Regions from separate parts of the Homo sapiens genome. Here region 2 is linked to region 1. Evidence: fine-mapped expression QTL. A gene starts in region 1. The other region holds a variant in brackets. All regions are shown on one strand. Distances are between the middles of the regions. Region 1 holds the start of CNN2 (calponin 2). Region 2 holds the start of ARHGAP45 (Rho GTPase activating protein 45).

What was found. PIP is the estimated chance that this variant, and not a neighbour inherited with it, causes the effect.
Region 2: its variant is fine-mapped to the expression of CNN2 in whole blood (INTERVAL, PIP above 0.99).

Annotation. Positions count from the first base shown.
Region 1 is chr19:1,022,123-1,031,407 of GRCh38, forward strand. It overlaps CNN2 (calponin 2), which reads left to right and starts at 4,486. Exons shown (of 7, transcript NM_004368.4): 1 at 4,486-4,602; 2 at 8,949-9,070. The coding sequence starts at 4,540. RefSeq lists an enhancer at 3,412-4,143 and silencers at 4,134-4,773, 6,263-6,438.
Region 2 is chr19:1,066,597-1,077,000 of GRCh38, forward strand. ARHGAP45 (Rho GTPase activating protein 45) reads left to right here and starts at 571. Exons shown (of 23, transcript NM_012292.5): 1 at 571-899; 2 at 1,818-2,148; 3 at 6,553-6,696; 4 at 6,910-6,994; 5 at 7,078-7,150; 6 at 7,352-7,418; 7 at 7,508-7,645; 8 at 7,747-7,811; 9 at 8,018-8,128; 10 at 8,203-8,283. The coding sequence starts at 810. RefSeq lists enhancers at 14-520, 2,711-2,870, 8,874-9,168 and silencers at 381-1,140, 1,451-1,690, 2,221-2,320, 7,853-7,962, 7,973-8,502. The variant T/C (reference allele first, on the strand shown) is at 3,254.

The DNA.
Region 1 (9,285 bases):
ACTTTAGGTGATTTGCCCGCCTAGGCCTCCCAAAGTGCTGGGATTACAGGTGTGACCCACCAAGCCCGCCAAAAAAAAGTTTTGTGTTGTTTTTTTTTTTTGAGACGCAGTCTCACTCTGTCGCCCAGGCTGGAGTGCAGTGGCGTGATCTCGGCTCACTGCAACCTCCGCCTCTTGGGTTCAAGCAATTCTCTGCCTCAGCCTCCTGAATAGCTGGGATTGCAGGCTTCCGCCACCACACCCGGCTATTTTTTTTGTATTTTTAGTGGAGACCAGGTTTGATCATCTTGGCCAGGTTGGTATTGAACTCCTGACCTCGTGATCCACCCGCGTCAGCCTCCCAAAGTGCTGGAGTTACAGGCATGAGCCACCGCGCCCGGCCCCCCCAAAAAAATGTTTTTAAAAGTTAACTGAGGACGTTGGTGCATGCCTGTAATTCCAGCTACTTGGGAGGCTGAGGTGGGAGGACTGCTTGAGCCCAGGAGTTGGAGGCTGCAGTGAGCCATGATCGTATCCCTGCGCTCCAGGTTGGATGACTAAGTGAGACCCTGTCTCTAAAAAATAAAGTGTAAAAAAGCCAACAGTCAGTATTTTTAGCTTTTTTGGGTAGAGTAACTACTCCACTCTGCTGTTGTACAGAAAACGCAGCCGTAAATGATACATAAATGGATGGGCACAGCTGTGTGCCAATAAAGCTTTGTCTGCAGACACTGGAATTTGAATGTTATGTAATTTCCACGTTTGATAGAATGGTTTTCATATTTTGGGTTTTTTTTTCAACCACTTAAAAATGTAAGAGCCATTCTTAGCTCACAAGCCATACAAAAATAGGCTGCAGCTGGATTTGGCCCACAGGTCAAGAACACAGCTTTCCAAGAGAAAGATAAGCAAATAACAAACATAACTTTAAGTGTTCTGGTAGCCACAGTAAAACAACTAAAAAAGAGCAAGTGAAATTAATTTTAATAATATATTTTACACATCTCAAGTTATCCAAACAAGGTCAGGCGCGGTGGCTCATGCCTGTAATCTCAGCACTTTTGGAGGCTGAGGCGGGAGGATCATTTCAGCCCAGGTGTTCAAGACCAGCCTGGGCAATATAATGAGATCCTGTCTCTACGAAAAATACCAAAAATTAGCTGGGCACGGTGGTGTGTGCCTGTGGTCCCAGCTACTTGGGAGGCTGAGGCAAGAGGATTGCTTAAGCCAAGGAGTTGGAGGCTGCAGTGAGCTGTGATGGCACCATTGCACTCCAGCCTGGGCAACAGAGCAAGACCCCACCTCATAAACGAAAAAAAAGTGGCCGGGCGCGGTGGCTGACACCTGTAATCCCAGCACTTGGGAGGCCGAGGCGGGCGGATCACGAGGTCAGGAGATCGAGACCACCCTGGCAAACACGGTGAAACCCTGTCTCTACTAAAAATACAAAAATATTAGCTGGGTGTGGTGGCGGGCGCCTGTAGTCCCAGCTGCTCGGGAGGCTGAGGCAGAAGAATGGCCTGAACCCGGGAGGCGGAGCTTGCAGTGAGCCGAGATCACGCCACTGCACCCCAGCCTGGGTGACAGAGCGAGACTACTTCTCAAAAAAAAAAAAAAAAAAAAAGTAACTGAGATGTACCAAGTCTTCAGAATCTGGTGTGTTTCCCATCCATGGGGTGTTCCAATATGGATACCAGTGCTTCCTCAGAAATACTTATCTCCACAGTATTTAGATTTACAGCGTTTATACTGAAAAGGAAAATTCAGAAACGCTAAGGTATTTAAAATATACACGAGGCTGAGCACGGTGGCTCACGCCTGCAATCCCAGCACTTTGGGAGGCTGAGGCGGGAGGATCACTTGAATCCAGACTGGGCAACATAGGGAGACCCCATCTCTACAAAAAATTTAAAAATTAGCTAGGCATATGGCACATGCCTGTAGTCCCAGATACTCAGGAGGCTGAGGCAGGAGATTACTTGAGTCCAGGAGGTCGAGGCTGCAGTGAACTATATTTGCACCACTGCACTCCAGCCTGGGTGACAGAGCAAGACCCTGTTTCAAATATCTATATATTTACATTTATATGTATAATGTGTACATATGTGTGTATTTATGTATTTGAAAACTTTAATGTGTGTGTACATATATATATAGTCAAAAACGGAAATCATGTCAGTTTTTAATTTTTAACTGAAATTAATTGAAATAGCCCGGCCACGGCAGCTGACACCTATAATCCCAGCACTTCGGAAGGCTGAGGCCGGCGGATCACTTGAGGTCAGGAGTTCAAGACCAGCCTGGCCAACATGGTGAAACCCGCATCTCTACTAAAAATGCAAAAATTAGCCAGGCGTGGTGGTGCGTGTCTACGGTCCCAGCTACTCGGAGTCCCAGCTACATATATATGTGTATTTATATATATGTGTCTTCAAAAAATGGAATCTAGTGCCAGTTTTTAATTTTTAATTGAAATTTAAGAATAGGAAGTATTTGCTGGGTGCGGTGGCTCACACCTGTAATCCCAGCACTTTGGGAGGCTGAGGCGGGCAGATCACGAGGTCAGGAGATCGAGACCATCCTGGATAACACAGTGAAACCCCGTCTCTACTAAAAATACAAAAATTAGCTGGGTGTGGAGGTGTGCCTGTAGTCCCAGCTGCTGGGGAGGCTGAGGCAGGAGAATGGCGTGAACCCAGGAGGTGGAGCTTGCAGTGAGCCAAGATTGCGCCACTGCACTCCAGCCTGGGTGACAGAGCGAGACTCCGTCTCAAAAAATAATAATAAAATAAAATAAAAAGAACATGAAGTATTTGCTTCCCTGATGGCACCAGCCACACTTCCAGTGCTCAGTAGCCCCATGGCCAGTGGCTACAGTAGTAGATAGTGCCACATTGAAAATTTCCTTCATCTCAGAATAACAGAAATGGTCAGCACTGGTCTAAAATGACATGGGTCGGCCAGGTGCAGTGGTTCAAGCCTGTAATCACAGTACTTTGGGAGGCTGAGGCGGGTGGATCACCTGAGGTCAGGGGTTCGAGACCAGCCTGGCCAACATGGTGAAACCCCATCTCTACTAAAAATAAAATAAAATAAAATAAAATAAAATAAAATAAAATAAAATAAAATAAAATGTGTCAAACTCCTATTGATGCTTCAAAACCCCATCTCCCTTGCCTCCTCTTACATGCAGCTTTCCTTGATTCCTCCGACAGAGCCCCAACTCTCCCTCCAGTTCCTCCAGCCCCAAGCCTCTCATTCTGTCCTGTACTTGCTCATATAGGGAAACAGGGTGGGCGGGGTGGGGGGGTTCCGCCTGTGCTGGCTCATACAGGGAATCCGGGTTGGGGGTTGGTCTGTGCCAGCTCTGTCTTCCTGGGCATGGGCTGGGCCAGAGCTAAGGTCTCCTGAGAGCCAGCACTGCCTGGCAGGAGACTGTCCCGGAGACTTTTTAATAATTTATTATTATTAGGGTTTTTTTGTGTTTTTTTTTTTTGTTTTTTTTTTTAAGACGGAGTCTTGCTCTGTCGCCCAGGCTGGAGTGCAGTGGCGCGATCTCGACTTACTACAACCTCCGCCTCCTGGCTTCAAGTGATCCTCCCACCTCAGCCTCCTCAGTAGCTGGAATTACAGGCATGTGCCCCCATGCCCGGCTAATTTTTGTATTTTTAGTAGAGACGGAGTTTCGCCATGTTAGCCAAGCTGGTCTGGAACTCCTGACCTCAAGTGATCCGCCCGCCTCGGCCTTCCAAAGTGCTGGGATTGCAGGCGTGAGCCACTCGGATTTTTATTTTTATTTATTTATTTATTTTTAGAGAGAGGCTCTTGCTCTGCTGCCCAGGCTGGAGCGTCATGTTGTGATGATAACTCACTGCAGCTTCGACCTCTTGGGCTCAACGGATCCTCCCCCTTCGGCCTCAGCCTCCCAAGTAGCTAGAACTCCAGGTGCAAGCTACCGCACCCAGTAAGAATCCTATTCTCTTTTGGACTGACAAACTCCTACTCATCCAACAAAGCCCCAGCTCCAATGGCCCCTTCTCTGAGGAACCTGCCCTGGTTCCCTGGTCCACCTCCCAGCTAGTAGAGTTCCCTGGGAAGGGGTTAGACGCCTCTAAGTGGCAGAGAGGGGCCCTCATTCCTGCCCCAAAGGTAGCCTTCTCCCCTCCCCTTTCTGGCAGAAGAGAAGTCTGAGATGGAGAAAGAGTGAGAGCCGCCCACGAGCTCTGAGCAGAGAGCCCGCAGGAGTGCCACGTCCCGGCGGCCTCGGCCCCTCCCTGCCTCAGTTTCCCGTGGCATCAAAGGGGGCGAGGGGCCCCTCCAGGCCTCTGGTGACGGGGGTGCTGTGCCCAGGCGGGGGTCCGGGGGCGACCGAGGGGGCTCAGGAAGTCCGCGGCCGCAGGAATTCGGCGCCTCCAGGCCTTATAAGGACATTTGCGCTCCGGGCCAATCAGCGGCGGGGGCGTGGCGCGCGGAGCCCGGCGCGTCCCAACCCCGCGCCAGCCCGGCGGTCCCGTCCCGTCCCGTCCTGTGCGGCCCCGTCCCGCCGCCCGCCCGCCAGCCATGAGCTCCACGCAGTTCAACAAGGGCCCCTCGTACGGGCTGTCGGCCGAGGTCAAGAACCGGGTGAGTGAGGGGCGCCCCTTGTCCCCCCGACAGCGCGGCCGTCGCACGCTCCGACCGGTGCAGGAGCCCCCAGGCGCCCCCGGCACCTCCCGGGCAGGGAGCTTGGAGACCCGGGGCGGACGGGCCCTTGTTCTCCCTGACGCCTGGTGGGGGGATGTCTGCGGGCACCCCCTGAGGCTCCCGCGAATCTTGGGGAGCACCCAGGTCTGAGATCTGGGGGACGAGTGACCCATTCCCCCCCCCAACATCTAGGGGTAGTTGGGTCTGACTTCGTCCCCTCGCCATGGCCCCAGGACCCCCACGTGTGAAGCCCCTGGCGCCCACTCAACCTTCGAGAAGGTCCGTTCAAGGTCCGACAACGCTCTGGGGGTCTGGGGGGGACCCCAGCAACCCCGTCATCTCCTGGCCACACTTCTGCTTTTGGGGCCTCTTAGCTTTGGGAGGGGAAGGGGCATGGCCGAGTGGTTTTTGAGAAGTGTTACCCCCCCACAAACAGGAATTTCCTGGCCTCTGGGACACCTTGGGGGTGTCTTGGGGGGAGGGGCGGTAGCCGCTTTGCACGGTCTTTGTCTCCCATCTGACTAATTTAAACGGATAACAAAGAGGTTCTCTGAAGGTGGCCCTGAGATATGTGGGGTTTTGCAGCCTCGAAAGAAGAGCTGGGGCCCGGCAGGGCGCGGGGGCTCACGCCCGTAATCCCAGCACTTTGGGGGGCGGAGCTGGGTGGATGGCTTGAGCCCAGCGAGTTCGAGACCAGTCTGGGCAACATGGCGAAACCCCATCTCTATAATTAAAAACAAGCCAGGGCTAGGGGAGACACTTTTTAAGAGAGCACTTGTGGTTCTAGCTCAGAGAGGACCAGACACTTCTGCAGGGTCACACAGCAGGGTCCTGGACAGGATTCCCAGGGAAAGTGGGGGGCGGGGGTTGTGATGCGAGACCCACGGACAGGACCGGGACCTGACCCTCCAGGACCTTCCAGCTGGAGGGGGGTGTCGTCCCCGCCCACCCCCTCCCCCGACGCCCACTGGGCACCTGGGAAGGTGTCCTTACAGCTGACTTCTGCAGGGGAAACTGCCTCTGCACGCTCTGAGGGCACCGGCCCTGCCAGCCCCAACAGCCACCTGCCCGGCGGCACTCCAGGGCCGGCAGACTGGAGGGAGAATTCCTGCTTCCCCGCTGTGAGCCCCTGCAAGCCTTCAGACCAGCTCTTGGCCAAAAAGGGAGGCTGAGGCTTGGGGTGGTCAAGGCCTGAGCCAGGGTCCCCAGCCCGGGGCTCACGACTCCTCCTTCAAGGGGCCATCTGCACCCTGCATTCATAGAGCCCCCCGTGCAGTGGGGTGGGCACCCTGCCGCACCCTGCATACAGCCGGCTAAGGGCACCGGTGTCCACAGGGACCCAGAGACGTCGTTCCAGCTGCCCAGGGCCACACAGCCCACAAGTGACAGGGCCAAGACCGGAACCCAGTACCTGCTGGGCCTGCGGAAGTGGGAGCGGGCACAGGAGGGTGGGGCGGCTTCCGGAGACGGGGTGGGGTGGGGTGGGGGCAGGTTGATACCTGCCCTGGCGGGGGTGAGGACAGAGGCTGGAAGAGCCGCTTAGCAGGCTCCCCGCGCAACCCTCAGTCTGTCCGTTTGGAGGGTGGGCGAGGCGTCGGCCAGCTTGCCAGGGTCACGGAAGGGTCGCCTCCCAATTAGAAACCAGCTTCCCCCTGGCTTCCCGCTCACACCCGCTTTACCGGCTGCTTGAAACAGCCAGAGACCCGCCCCCCGCCCCGCTTCCCCGTGGCTCAGTTGACTCCCGGCTGGACGGCACGGAGGCAGCTCGGATCCACAGTGTCTGCGGCCTTGCATCCCGGCTTGGGGGTCCGGACCCGCTGGGAACAGCTGGTTCAGATTTAGCCGGGGAGGCAGCGCGCATTCCTGGCAGTTTGTGGTGAACAGGAATGTGCTGGAAGGCCGGCGGCCGGGCAGCGGGGGGGCGGGGGTGGGGGAGGACGGCAGCGGCTGGGGGTGGGGCCAGGGGACCTGGGCCCCTGAGCCGGCAGAGACGCGGCGCAGCTGGGCAAGGCAGGGCTGTGTACCCAGCAGCCACCGTTCTCATTCCTCGGGATCAAAGTTGCCGGCGGGGCGGGGCTGCCCCCGGGCGTGGAAAGCCAAGCTGGGTGGGCTGTGAGCTGGTACTGGGGGGCCTCCCCGCCTTTGCCTCCTCTGGGCTACGAGCTGTTTCCAGGCAGGTGCCAGGTCAGGGGACCCTAACCCAAATAATCCCAGGCAGGTCCAGGTCAGGGGACCCTATCCCAAATAATCCCAGGCAGGTCCAGCTCAGGGGACCCTAACCCAAATCATCCCAGGCAGGTCCAGCTCAGGGGACCCTAACCCAAATCATCCCAGGCAGGTCCAGCTCAGGGGACCCTAACCCAAATCATCCCAGGCAGGTCCAGCTCAGGGGACCCTACCCAAATCATTCCAGGCAGATCTAGCTCAGGGGACCCTAACCCAAATCATCCCAGGCAGGTCCAGCTCAGGGGACCCTAACCCAAATCATCCCAGGCAGGTCCAGCTCAGGGGACCCTAACCCAAATCATCCCAGGCAGGTCCAGGTCAGGGGACCCTACCCAAATCATCCCAGGCAGGTCTAGCTCAGGGGACCCTAACCCAAATCATCCCAGGCAGGTCCAGCTCAGGGGACCCTAACCCAAATCATCCCAGGCAGGTCCAGCTCAGGGGACCCTAACCCAAATCATCCTAGGCAGGTCCAGCTCAGGGGACCCTAACCCAAATCATCCCAGGCAGGTCCAGCTCAGGGGACCCTAACCCAAATCATCCCAGGCAGGTCCAGGTCAGGGGACCCTAACCCAAATAATCCCAGGAAGAGATGAGGAAGCGGAGGCTGAGTGGGGAGCTGTCCGCGGGAACCTGGGGAGATGGGTGCAGAGCAGGGAGAGGGATTTGATTTTTTTTTTCCTTCTCTCTTTTCTTTCTTTTTTTTTTTAAGACAGAGGCTCACTCTGTTCCAGGCTGGAGTGAAGTGGCCCGATCTTGGCTCACTGCCTCCTCTGCCTCCTGGGTTCAAGCGATTCTCCTGCCTCAGCCTCCCAAGTAGCTGGGACTACAGGTGCCCACCACCACGCCCAGCTCATTTTTGTATTTTAGTACAGACGGGATTTCACCATGTGGGCTAGGCCAGTCTCGAACTCCTGACCTCAGATGATCCGCCCGCCTTGGCCTCCCAAAGTGCTGGGATTGTAGGTGTGAGCCACCGCACCCAGCCCAAACCCTACTTTATTCTCCCTCCAGCGTTTATCTCCCGCTCCCGCTACACGACCTGCCCCCATGCTTATGGCCCCCTATACACTTTGCCGTCTGCCTCAGTGCTGTCTCCGCGGTCACTAGTGGCTGGATAGGGACACTCGAGGTCCCCACTGGTGCACACCCACTGCCCAGGAGCACACAGCCCATTCCCCACGGCGGTGTCTCAGAGCACCGAAGGCCAAGAAAGCTGGAATGGCCGGGTGCAGAAAGGTGGCAGGGAATCGGTGGCAAGGAGCCAGGTGCGTGACTAGAGGCGGTCAGCCTCGGGGGCAGCTCCTTCGGGAGTTGCTAAGAAGCAGGATGGGGGCCGGGCGCGGTGGCTCACACCTGTAATCCCAGCACTTTGGAGGGCTGAGACGGGCAGATCACGAGGTCAGGAGATGGAGACCATCTTGGCTAACACGGTGAAACCCCGTCTCTATTAAAAATACAAAAAATGAGCTGGGCCTGGTGGCGGGCGCCTGCAGTCCCAGCTACTCGGGAGGCTGAGGCAGGAGAATGGCCTGAACCGGGGAGGCGGAGCTTGCAGTGAGCCGAGATCGCACCACTGCACTCCAGCCTGGGCGACAGAGTGAGACTCTGTCTCAAAAAAAATAAAAAAGAAAAAAGAGCTGATGGTTGCACAACATTGCAGACGTACGAAATGCTGTGAAATGGTGCGGTTTCAGGTGGTTGAAGTGGTAAACGTCAGGTGTGATATAGCGGGGAGGTGAGAAGGCAGGGCGGGGAGGCAGATCCGGCCAGGTTTGTCCTGCACCGGGAGTGGATTAGAGCTGATGTTTATCAGTGAGTTCTAAGCCGGTTGTCGGCCTGCTTGGAGGGCGGTTTATCTGTGCCCGCCTGCAGTGGCTGGGGCGCCCCCAATGATGGGAAAAGGGAGCATCTGCGTGGGTGTGGTGAGGGGGGACCTCCAGGCCGCTCTATCTGCTGTTGCCCTGGAGTCCCCGGCCCCACCCTCTGCAGAGCTTCTGTGGGGTTCCTGCTGGGGGTGCCCCCAGCCCAGCTCAGTCTCGTGCCCTTTGCTCCACCAGCTCCTGTCCAAATATGACCCCCAGAAGGAGGCAGAGCTCCGCACCTGGATCGAGGGACTCACCGGCCTCTCCATCGGCCCCGACTTCCAGAAGGGCCTGAAGGATGGAACTATCTTATGCACGTGAGTACACGCAGGGACACAGGCTGTCTCACACTTAACAAATCTTGGTTTTTCTCACTTTTTTTCTTAATTAAGAAATTTTTGGGGGGCCGGGCATGGCCTGGCTCATGCCTGTAATCCCAGCACTTTTGGAGGCCGAGGGTGGTGGCGGGGGGCGGTGGATCTCGAGGTCAGGAGTTCGAGACCAGCCTGGCCAACATGGTGAAACCCCGTCT
Region 2 (10,404 bases), 45 kb after region 1:
CGTGGGGACCCAGACGGACGTGGGGACCCAGACGGACAGGGCCCGGTAACCTGGATTGTTCTGACTTCCTGGACGTCTTTGCCCCCAGGGTTTCGGTTCTGGGCCTCAGTTTCCCCACCTGTCCTCGACCTGACCCACTTCACGGGGCTGCAGGGCGGGTGATGGGGGGGACCCTACTCTGCCCGGCCCTGCTGGGGCCCGGCCACACCCTAGGGTCTGCAGGAGAGGCGGTGGAGCGGGCTTGCCTTCAGGGAAAAGGGGGCTGCAGGGGCGCAGCTTCGGCCTGTGCGTGTGTCTGGGGTCTGAGGGCGAGGCTCCAGGGGCTTGGTGGCGTCTGAGCGCGTGTGGAGGTCCGGGTCTCTGCGTGTCATCGTGCACGTGTCTGTGCACGCCCACTCGCGTCCGGGAGTGAGAGTCAGCGCCCTGCAGTCGGCCGCCCCGTGCCCGCCAGCGTCAGGCAGGGGCTCCCGGTCCCACCCCGCGAGCGGCGCGGCTCCGAGCTCCCGAAGGCGGAAGCGGGGGGCGCGGCCCGGGGCTGGGGGCGGGGCCTGCGACCTCACCTTCGCGCCCACTCCGCAGAGCCGCAGGCTGAGGCCGGGAAGGGTCGGGGGCGAGGCCGCGTCGCCGCCTCCCCGAAGCCTTTTCCTGTTGGGGGGAGGGCCCGCCAGTGACGGCCGGGCCTGTCACGTGGGCCTGACAGCTGGGGAGGGGGTGGCCGGCGACAATGTGGTCCCGAAGCGGCCAGCGCCGGGAGCTGCAGCGCTGAGACCCCCAGCCCGCCCCCTCGGGCTCCCGGCCGGGGCCCCATCATGTTCTCCAGGAAGAAACGAGAGCTCATGAAAACCCCTTCCATCTCGAAAAAGAACCGCGCGGGAAGCCCCAGCCCGCAGCCCTCGGGGGTGAGTGGAGCCCGGGTGAGACCCGGAGCTGACGCCGGGCCGCAGGGGGACAGGGACCCGCCCTGTGCTCGGGGCTCATGCTGGGGCGGCGGCTGGGGGCTCGTGCCAGCTACAGCCCCTACCGGGCGGGACGGCAGGGGCCACAGCAGAGAGGCCGGGACCCCGGCATTCAGCTCACGGTAGGGACCCTGGGAGTGGTGGCCGCCTCCCTCCACTCCATCCAGGGCTGGCCGCGGGGCCCAGGGAGCAGGAAGGGAGGGTGCCGGGTTGGGACGATGTTGTGTTTGGGCCGCTGCAGGTTGGGGGCTTAGGCAATCTGGGGGCTCTAGGGGCCGTTGAGATGGGAGGGCTGTGGCCTGGCCATTGGGCTGAAGGTTGACCGGGCAGCAGATCCTCTAATGGGATCCACCAGGTTCAGAGGTTGGGGAGTGTCCCCAGGCCTGGGGTGTCTACAAAGCTGGGGGGGGGGTCTACAGAGCTTGGGGGTCCGGGATGTCTACAAGGCCTGGGGCTGCCCATAGGCTCTGGGGTTCCATGGACCTTTAGGGGACAGACAGAGTCAGAAGTGTGTTCACTTAAAGCACCTGCGTTGTAGGAGCCTGAGGGGGGCTTGAAGGGCTGAGGACCCTCCCCACCCCCACCAGGAAGTGGGGACCCCCCTCCCGCGCCTCCCCGCAGGCCCCGCCCCGGCTGTGGTTTGGGCAAGGACCGTTGTTTGTGAAAGCTCTAGGGAAGAGGATGTTGGGTAACAGGTGGGGGGGTACACTACCAAATCTCGGCCCTGTGACCTCTGGCCTTTGACCCCTGTGGGGTCAGGGTGATGGTGGCCCTCCACAGCCCCACTTCATTTCTGGGGAAACTGAGGCCGTGTCCAGGCCGGAAAATCCCTTTAACGAGCTCCCCTCGGACCTGCCCAAGGAGCTGCCCAGGAAGGATGGGGCTGACGCGGTGTTCCCCGGACCAAGCCTGGAGCCGCCCGCTGGGTCCTCCGGCGTCAAGGCCACAGGGACCCTCAAGCGGCCCACCAGCCTGAGCCGCCACGCCAGCGCGGCTGGCTTCCCCCTGTCGGGTGCTGCCTCCTGGACACTGGGCCGGAGCCACCGGAGCCCACTGACAGCCGCCAGCCCGGGCGAGCTGCCCACCGAGGGTGCCGGCCCGGACGTCGTCGAGGACATCTCCCATCTGCTGGCGGACGTGGCCCGCTTCGCTGAGGGCCTTGAGAAACTTAAGGAGTGTGTGTTGCGTGACGGTGAGAGCCACGGGGACACCGAGGCCTGGGTGGAAGACAGAGCCAGACCCAAGGGAGGATGGAGGGAGGGACTTGGGGAGGCTCAGAAGGGAGGGAGGCTCAGATGGCAGGGAGGGCTGTGTGGAAGAGGCCATGACAGCTAAGGCTCTGAGGGATGTGTAGGAGTTTGGTGGGGGAGTCCCTGAGCGTACACTGGCTCAAGAGGGTGCCCACTTTATTTTTTTTAAAGGATCTGATGGCAATTAGGAGGGAAAGGCAGAGGAAATGTCCCATGCACAGGCTCAGAAACACGGAAACAGAGAATGCATTTGGGGGCCAAGGTGTGGGGTGCCGCTGGTGTAGGATGAAGGCATGACAACGCCAGGCAGAAGGGCAATGGGGAGCCATAGAAGGTGTTAGAGCACAGGACAGATGGGGGCAGATCTGTGTCTTGGAATGAAGCAAACTGGGGGTTGGCTGAGGTCTGGGTGGAGAGAGATTCAGGAGGCATGGCGAGGGGCAGGATGGGGTCATCAGGCGGCGGAGGTGCTGGGACCCAGCGGCCTGCAGGCCGGCAGTTCCGTTTTCTCCTCCACGCGGCCGCTGACAGCCCTGCTTCCTGCCGAGTTATTTTCATCTGCTTCCTGTTTGTCCCTGGCAGCCCAGGCGGGCACCTCATGTGCTGCCTTCAGCCCCCGGCTCCTCCCAGAAACCACAGTGCCAGGGTCATGCCAGGCGCTCTGATCTGCTCCCAGCAGCCGCCCATTTTACAGATGACGAAACTAAGTCTCTAGTGAGGCCCTGACCCCTGGCTCACCCAGCCAGGGCAGGGCAGAGCCAGGACTGGACCTCAAGTGGTGGAGTGGCCTCTGCACCTTCAGGGCACTAGTTGGGGAAGGCCCGGTCCCCACTGGGAGGAGTGGGAGCCCCCGGGTTATCTGGTCCCAGGGGCGGGGGCTAGGCTGCTTTCCTGGGGAAACCCTAATCTCGGTTCCTTTCCGATCCTGGCGCTTCCTTGGAGGCCTGGCCTGGGCGGGGCTCAGCTCCCAGGCTCCTGCAGGAGGTCTGAACTGGGCCAGCCAGGGTGGGGCACTTTTTTTTTTTTTTTTTTGATACAGGGTCTTGC[T/C]CTGTTGCCCAGGCTGGAGTCCAGTGGTGTGATTGAGGCTCACTGTTACCTTGAACTCCTGGGCTCAAGCCATCCTCCTACCTCTGCCTCCCGAGTACCTGAGACTACAGGCATGAGCCACTGCACCTGATTTATTTTATTTTATTTATTTTATTTGAGATGGTGAGATGGAGTCTCACTCTGTCGCCCAGGCTGGAGTGCAGTGGCGCGATCTCGGCTCATTGCAACCTTCCTCTCTCGGGTTCAAGTGATTCTTCTGCCTCAGGCTCCCGAGTAGCTAGGACTACAGGTGCGTGCCACCACACCTGGCTAATTTTTGTATTTTTAGTAGAGATGGGGTTTCACCATATTGGCCAGGTTGGTCTCAAACCCCTAACCTCGTGATCCGCATGCCTCAGCCTCCCAAAGTGCTGGGATTACAGCAGGCATGAGCCACCGTGCCCGGGCTTTTCTTTTTTTCTTTCTTTTTCTTTTCTTTTCTTTTTTTTTTTTTTTTTTTGAGACAGAGTCTCACTCTGTCACCCAGGCTGGAGTGCAGGGGCGAGATCTCAGCTCACTGCAACCTCCACCTCCTGGGTTCAAGTGGTTCTTCTGCCTCAGCCTCCCGAGTGGCTGGGATTGCAGGGGCGCGCCACCGTGCCCGGCTAATTTTTTTTCTTTCTTTTTTTTTTTTTTTTAGTAGAGATGGGGTTTCACCATTTTGGCCAGGCTGGTCTTGAACTCCTGATCTCAAGTGATCCACCCACCTCGGCCTCCCAAAGCGCCAGGATTACAGGCGTGAGCCATCGCGCCCGGCCAGTTTTTGTATTTTTTGTAGAGACCGGGGTCTCCCCATATTGCGCAGGCTGGTCTAGAACTCCCGAGCTAAAAACCGTTCTCCCGGCTCCGCCTCCCAAAGTGCTGGGATAACAGGCCTGATCCACCGCGCCCGGCTGGGGGCGCCTTCTGTGCGTCTCGGGGCCGCCCCAGGCCAGAGAAGACCCTGGCGGCTAGGATGTGGGCTCTAGTCCCGATGTTTCTCAGCTGCTGAGACCCTGGCAAGCCCCTTCCCTCTCTAGGTGTCAGGTGACTTATCTATAAAATGGGGCCACCTGCATGCAGCGATGGTTGTGGGGTCCACCCCACAGCTTGGGGACCCGCGTTCAGGCAGCTAGGAGGGGACCCACATGGACGGTGCCACCCCGACACTTCCCGGGCTTCCTCGTTCCCGGGCTTCAGGTCTGGGCCTCAGTTTCCCTGCCCGTCCTCGACCCTCCCCACCTCGAAGCTCTGCGGTTAAGGAAGGACCCAGGCTGGGGCGAACGGGACCCCAGGGCGGGGTTTCCCTCGCGGGGGCGGGGCCTCCTGACCGGCCGGAGCCGGTTTGGCCACCGGAGACCCCCATCGGTCAGCTGCCAGGCCCCACGCGCTCGCGGTCTCCGCGCCCCGACGGCTGCGCCATGTGTATCTGCGGGACGGCGCACCCGGTGCTGGACGAGGGCCCCGTGCGCTGCCGGGCGGGCCCCCGAGGTGAGGGGACAGGTGCCGGGCGCTGGGTCCCGCCGCGTCCGGGAGCACGTGGCGCTCGGGCCGTTTGCCGCCCGCGGTGGGGGAGCAGCGGCTGCCGCGCGCCTGGCCTGGCCGTGCGCACCTGGGCATCCCTGCGCTGCGCAGGGGTCGCGCCGGCCGCCGGCTTCCCGGGTAGGGGGTGTGCGGGGACAGCCGGGGGTCCGTGCGCCGGCCGCGCGCGGAGTGCCGGGTGCCCGGCTGGAAGGTCCCGAGAAGGGGCGTGGCCGGGGCCTCCCAGCGGCTTCCCGGAGCTCCTGGAGCCCCAATCCCATTCCCGGAGTCCGCCTCGCATCCAGCAGCGAAGACATGTTCCGGTCCGGGGTCTCAGGCCCGGCGGCGGCCAGCGGGGTATCTCTGGCGGGTGACTCGGTCGGTCTCTTCCCGGAGGTGACATTCACCTGGGGTCTTCGGTGCCGAAAGGGATGGGGCACTTACTTTTTCAGATTTCATTTCGTATTTGGGGCATCCTCTGAGCGGTACAGTCAGGCGTCAAAGCTGCCCCTCCCGCTGGCCTCTGTCCTCCCGGGTACCTTTCCCCTCCTACGAATTCCGTGGGTTTGTTTCCACTACGTGGTGTGTGCCTGGCTCTCGATGTTTCGCCTGTACTCTCTGCTTTTTTCTTTTCTTTCCTTCTTTTCTTTTCTTTCCTTTTCTTTCTTTCTTTTCTTTCCTTTCTTTTTGGGATGGAGGAGTCTCACTCTGTCACCCAGCTGGAGTGCAGTGGCGCGATCTCGGCTCACTGCAACCTCCGCCTCCCAGCTTCAAGCGATTCTCCTGCCTCAGCCTCCCGAGTAGCCGGCATTACAGAGGAGTGCCACCACGCTGCTACTTTTTGTATTTTTAGTAGAGGCAGGGTTTCGCCATGTTGGCCAGGATGGTCTCAAACTCCTGACCTCAAGTGATCTGCCTGCCTCGGCCTCACCAAGTGCTGGGATTACAGGCATGAGGCACTGTGCTTGGCCCTCTCTGCTTTTTTCTTCTTCCAATTGAGAACGTTCGATGAGGGCATTTAGCTTTTTATTCTTTATTTTATTTCTTACAGAGACAGGGTCTTACTGTATTGCCCAGGCTGGTCTTGAATTCCTGGGCTCAACCCGTCCTCCTGCCTCAGCCTCCCAAAGTGCTGGGGTCACAGGTGTAAGCCACCACCCCTGGCTGAGGAGGGCAGTGAAAGCCAGGTTCCAACAGTCAGATCTGACCTCCTCTGTTCTAACACCTTCTATGGCTCCCTATTGCCCTGGAGATAAAGCCAGGCAGGATCCCTCTGCCTGGCGTTCTCACGCCTTCAGAGCTAGCGTAGATGGAAAAGCTGTGTGATTGTTGAGAAATGGCTTCCCCTCTCTATGCCTCAGTTTCCTCACTTAGGAAGGGCAGAGAGAGACCTGGACAGGGCTTTGAGCAGTCCTGAGGAGTTAGGGCAGGGAAGGAGCCTGGTGGGCTGCATGGAGGAAGGGGCTGCAGGACTGTAGCTTGAAGGACAAGAGGCAGTTTGCTTTCTGGAGGGACAAGAAAAGAGTGTTCTGAGCAGCAGAGTGCCTAGGCCAACGTCTGGCCTTTGTTGATCTGGCCGGTAGCCCAGGGAGGGACAGTGCCCTCCCCGCGGTCTCGAAATGAGCCCCAGGCATCTGCCGTCTTCCACCTCTGCCTCAGTTTCCCCATCTGGGAACAGGAGCTCTAAAGAGGGAGGAGGTGGACAGACTTTCCCTGGGACTGGGCCCTACCCCACTGCTCACTCCGACTCTCCCCAGCAGACCTCCTTGAGGCCCGCCGCCCGCGGGCCCACGAGTGCCTGGGTGAGGCTCTGCGTGTCATGCATCAGATCATCTCCAAGTACCCGCTGCTGAACACCGTGGAGACGCTCACCGCAGCCGGCACCCTCATTGCCAAGGTCAAAGGTCAGCCTGCTGGAACAGGGCTGCGAGGGCTCTCTGCCTAGAAGGGCATCCTGGAGGAGGGGATGTTTGAAGTGGGTTTTGAAGGATGCATAGGAGTTTGACAGGCACAAGCTCCCTCCTGTTCCCCCTGGGTTAAGGGCTCCGGTCAGTTCTTGCAGGGATGGTCACCTCCCAGAGTGGGCCCACCTCCTTGTCCTTATCTCTGCTTCCCAGCCTTCCATTATGAGAGCAACAATGATCTGGAGAAACAGGAGTTCGAGAAGGCCCTGGAGACGATTGCTGTGGCCTTCAGTAGCACGTGAGCACGGGAGCCTGTGGGGCAGGGCAAGGGAGCGTGGGGGGCCCGGGTGTCTCTCGATGGTGACCTCGCTGGCCCTGCAGAGTGTCCGAGTTCCTCATGGGTGAAGTGGACAGCAGCACCCTCCTAGCAGTGCCTCCTGGGGACTCGAGCCAGGTGAGTGGGGTGGGCCAGGGCCACCTGTGTCCAGCTTCTGGAGGCCAGCCGGGTTCAGGTCTGCAGGGCCCAGACAGTCACCCTGCTTCCCCTGTGCGCCTTGGTTTCCCTCTCTGGGGGAGGCAGCAACCGTCCCCTGAAGGGTGGGCACTGCCCAGGGCCCCGCATGGGGCTGGTCTCACCTGCGTCTCCGTCCTACAGTCCATGGAAAGCCTGTATGGACCGGGCAGTGAGGGCACGCCTCCCAGCCTGGAAGACTGTGACGCCGGTAAGCCCCCACCCAGCGGCAGGCAGGCATTTGAGGGGTGGGCCATTGCGCGGGTCGGGCCAGGCTGAGCAGGCCCCCGTTCCCTGCAGGCTGCCTGCCCGCCGAGGAGGTGGACGTGCTGCTACAGCGCTGTGAGGGGGGCGTGGATGCCGCACTGCTGTATGCCAAGAACATGGCCAAGTACATGAAGGACCTCATCAGCTACCTGGAGAAGCGGACGACGCTGGGTGAGAGCTGGTGTCCCAGCAGGGTGGGTCTGGAGGGAGGGGGTTCTGGGTGAGCTGGGAAGGCCTTGTCCCAGCACCTCACACCCCTCTCCGGCCCGCAGAGATGGAGTTTGCCAAGGGCCTGCAGAAGATCGCTCACAACTGCAGACAGAGCGTCATGCAGGAGGTGGGGGCCCCGCGGGCACGGGGCGGGGGTCCCTGGGCCCGGGTGTGAGTCTCAGCCCCATTTCAAGGGCCCAGGGACCAAGAGCAGGGGCTTCCCCTCTACATTAACGGGGGTGGCTGCAGGGACCAGGGAGCTGGTGGCTGGGGGTGCTGGGGCCGCCCTGCCTCCATCCCTCCCCACCCAGTGAGCCGGTGCCCCACCCACAGCCCCACATGCCGCTCCTGTCCATCTACTCGCTGGCCCTGGAGCAGGACCTGGAGTTCGGCCACAGCATGGTGCAGGCGGTGGGCACCTTGCAGACCCAGACCTTCATGCAGGTGCGTGGTGCCCGGGAGGGCGGGCTGGGCGGGGGTGTCACCGGGGTACCCACTCACGGCCCGTCTCGCCCCAGCCCCTGACCCTGCGGCGGCTTGAACACGAGAAGCGCAGGAAGGAGATCAAGGAGGCCTGGCACCGTGCCCAGAGGAAGCTGGTGAGGCGGGCGGGCGGGGGCGGGCGGGGGCGGGCAGCGGGCCTCGGCGCAGGCGCAGTCCCAGCCCCAGCCCCATAGCGAGGGCCCTGCGGCGAGCTCCGCACACGCCCCGGCCTCCTGCGCATGCGCGGCCTCGCAGGCTGGGCCGCCCCCCCCAACGCCAAGCCGGGTCGGAGATGCTCCAGCCCCGTCGCCCCCAGCTCTGCCTGGAAGGACCCAGGAGCCCGGCGCTCACTGCTGTCCCTGCAGAAATGGGGAGAAGCCGTGCCTCCCTCGGTTGTAAGCAGCTGGTCTCCGGGTTGAGGGAGACTGATGGTCTCTCAGGACTGGGAAAGCGCCATGCTCCTGCATGTATTCTTTTTTTTTTTTTTTTTGATACGGAGTCTCGCTCTGTCGCCCAGGCTGCAGGCTGGAGTGCCATGGCACCATCTAGGCTTTCACTGCAACCTCCATCTCCCTGGTTCAAACAATTCTCCTGTCGCAGCGTCCCGAGTAGCTGGGATTACAGAAGCACGCCACCACACCTGGCTAATTTTTGTATTTTTAGTAGAGACGGGGTTTCACCATAGTGGTCAGGCTGGTCTCGAACTCCTGACCTCAGGTGATCCACCCGCGTCGGCCTCCCAAAGTGCTGAGATTACAGACGTGAGCCACCGCACCCACCCGGCCTCCTGCCTGTATTCTCTTCCCACTTCGCTTTTGGGTTATTTCAAAGACGCCGGCGCCTTTTTGTTTGTTTCTTTGCTTGTTTTGAGATAAGGTCTCGCTCTGTCACCCAGGCTGGACTGCAGTGACGCAATCATACCTCACTGCAGACTTGCCTTCTTGGGCTGCAATGATCCTCCCACCTCAGCCTCCTGAGTTCCTGGGTCTACAGGCACCAGCCATCACACCCAGTTCATTTTTTTGTATTTTTTGTATACTCACTATGTTGCCCAGTTTTTGTTTGCTTTTTAGCTGTGTTAACACGGTCTGCAGTGAAACGCACCCTCCTAGCTCCTTCCAGCACATACCGGCAAACACATATCTGCCCTGTTTTGTACACACGAGGACAGCTCACCTCATGCCCTGTTCTGCTCCTGATTTTTATCCTCACCTCCATATAGAGAGGCTCACCCGATATCAGTCAGCATGAAGCAGCCTGAACCCCTTTTTTCGGCTGTGCAGGGCTCAGCTGAGGAGATTGAGTAGGTTATTTCATGGACGTCTTGGGAGTGGCTGAGCTGTTGCTGTTACGAACACCATTGCTATGACAAGCTTGTGCCCCTGTCTCAAGGATGCCTGAGGGATCAGTGCCCAAAATAGAACTGCTGGGTCAAGGGGCGTGCGTGTATGAGCTACCCTCCCAGGCCACAGCCCTGCTTTTCCTCTTCTGTGAACCCTCAGTTCTTAACCTTTGCTTAGTTCTTATCCTTTGCTTACTTTGTACTGGACAGTGGCTTATCATTGATTTGTCAGAGCTTTTTACATATTAGAGAACTTAGGCCTTAATCATGTGAGTTTTAGACTCCCCCCATTCCCCTCCCACAATTTACTGTTTGACTTTTGATTTTTACCTGTGGCCTATTTTGCCAGGTAGAAACCTGTGATTGTTGGCAGTAGTCTTTTTTTTTTTTTTTTTTTTTTTTTTTTTTGAGACAAGAGCCTCACTCTGTTGCCCAGGCTGCAGTGCAGTGGATCGATCTCAGCTCACTGCAACCTCCATCTCCTGGGCTCAAGCGATTCTTCTGCCTCAGCCTCCCAAGTAGCTGGGATTACAGGCGCCAGCCAACATGCCTGGCTAATTTTTGTATTTTTAGTAGAGATGGGGTTTCACCACCTTGGCCAGGCTGGTCTCGAACTCCTGACCTCAGGTAATCTGCCCACCTTGTCCTTCCAAAGTGCTGGAATTATAGGCATAAGACACCGTGCTTGGCTAATTTTTATATCTTTGGTAGAGATGGGGTTTCATCATGTTGGCCAGGCTGGTCTCGAGTAGCTAGGACCACAGGTGTGCGCCACCACGTCTGGCTAAATTTTTTAATTTTTTTGTAGAGATGGGGTCTCACTATGTTGACCAGGCTGGTCTCAAACTCCTGGCCTCAAGTGATCCTCCTGCCTCGGCCTCCCAAAGCACTGGGA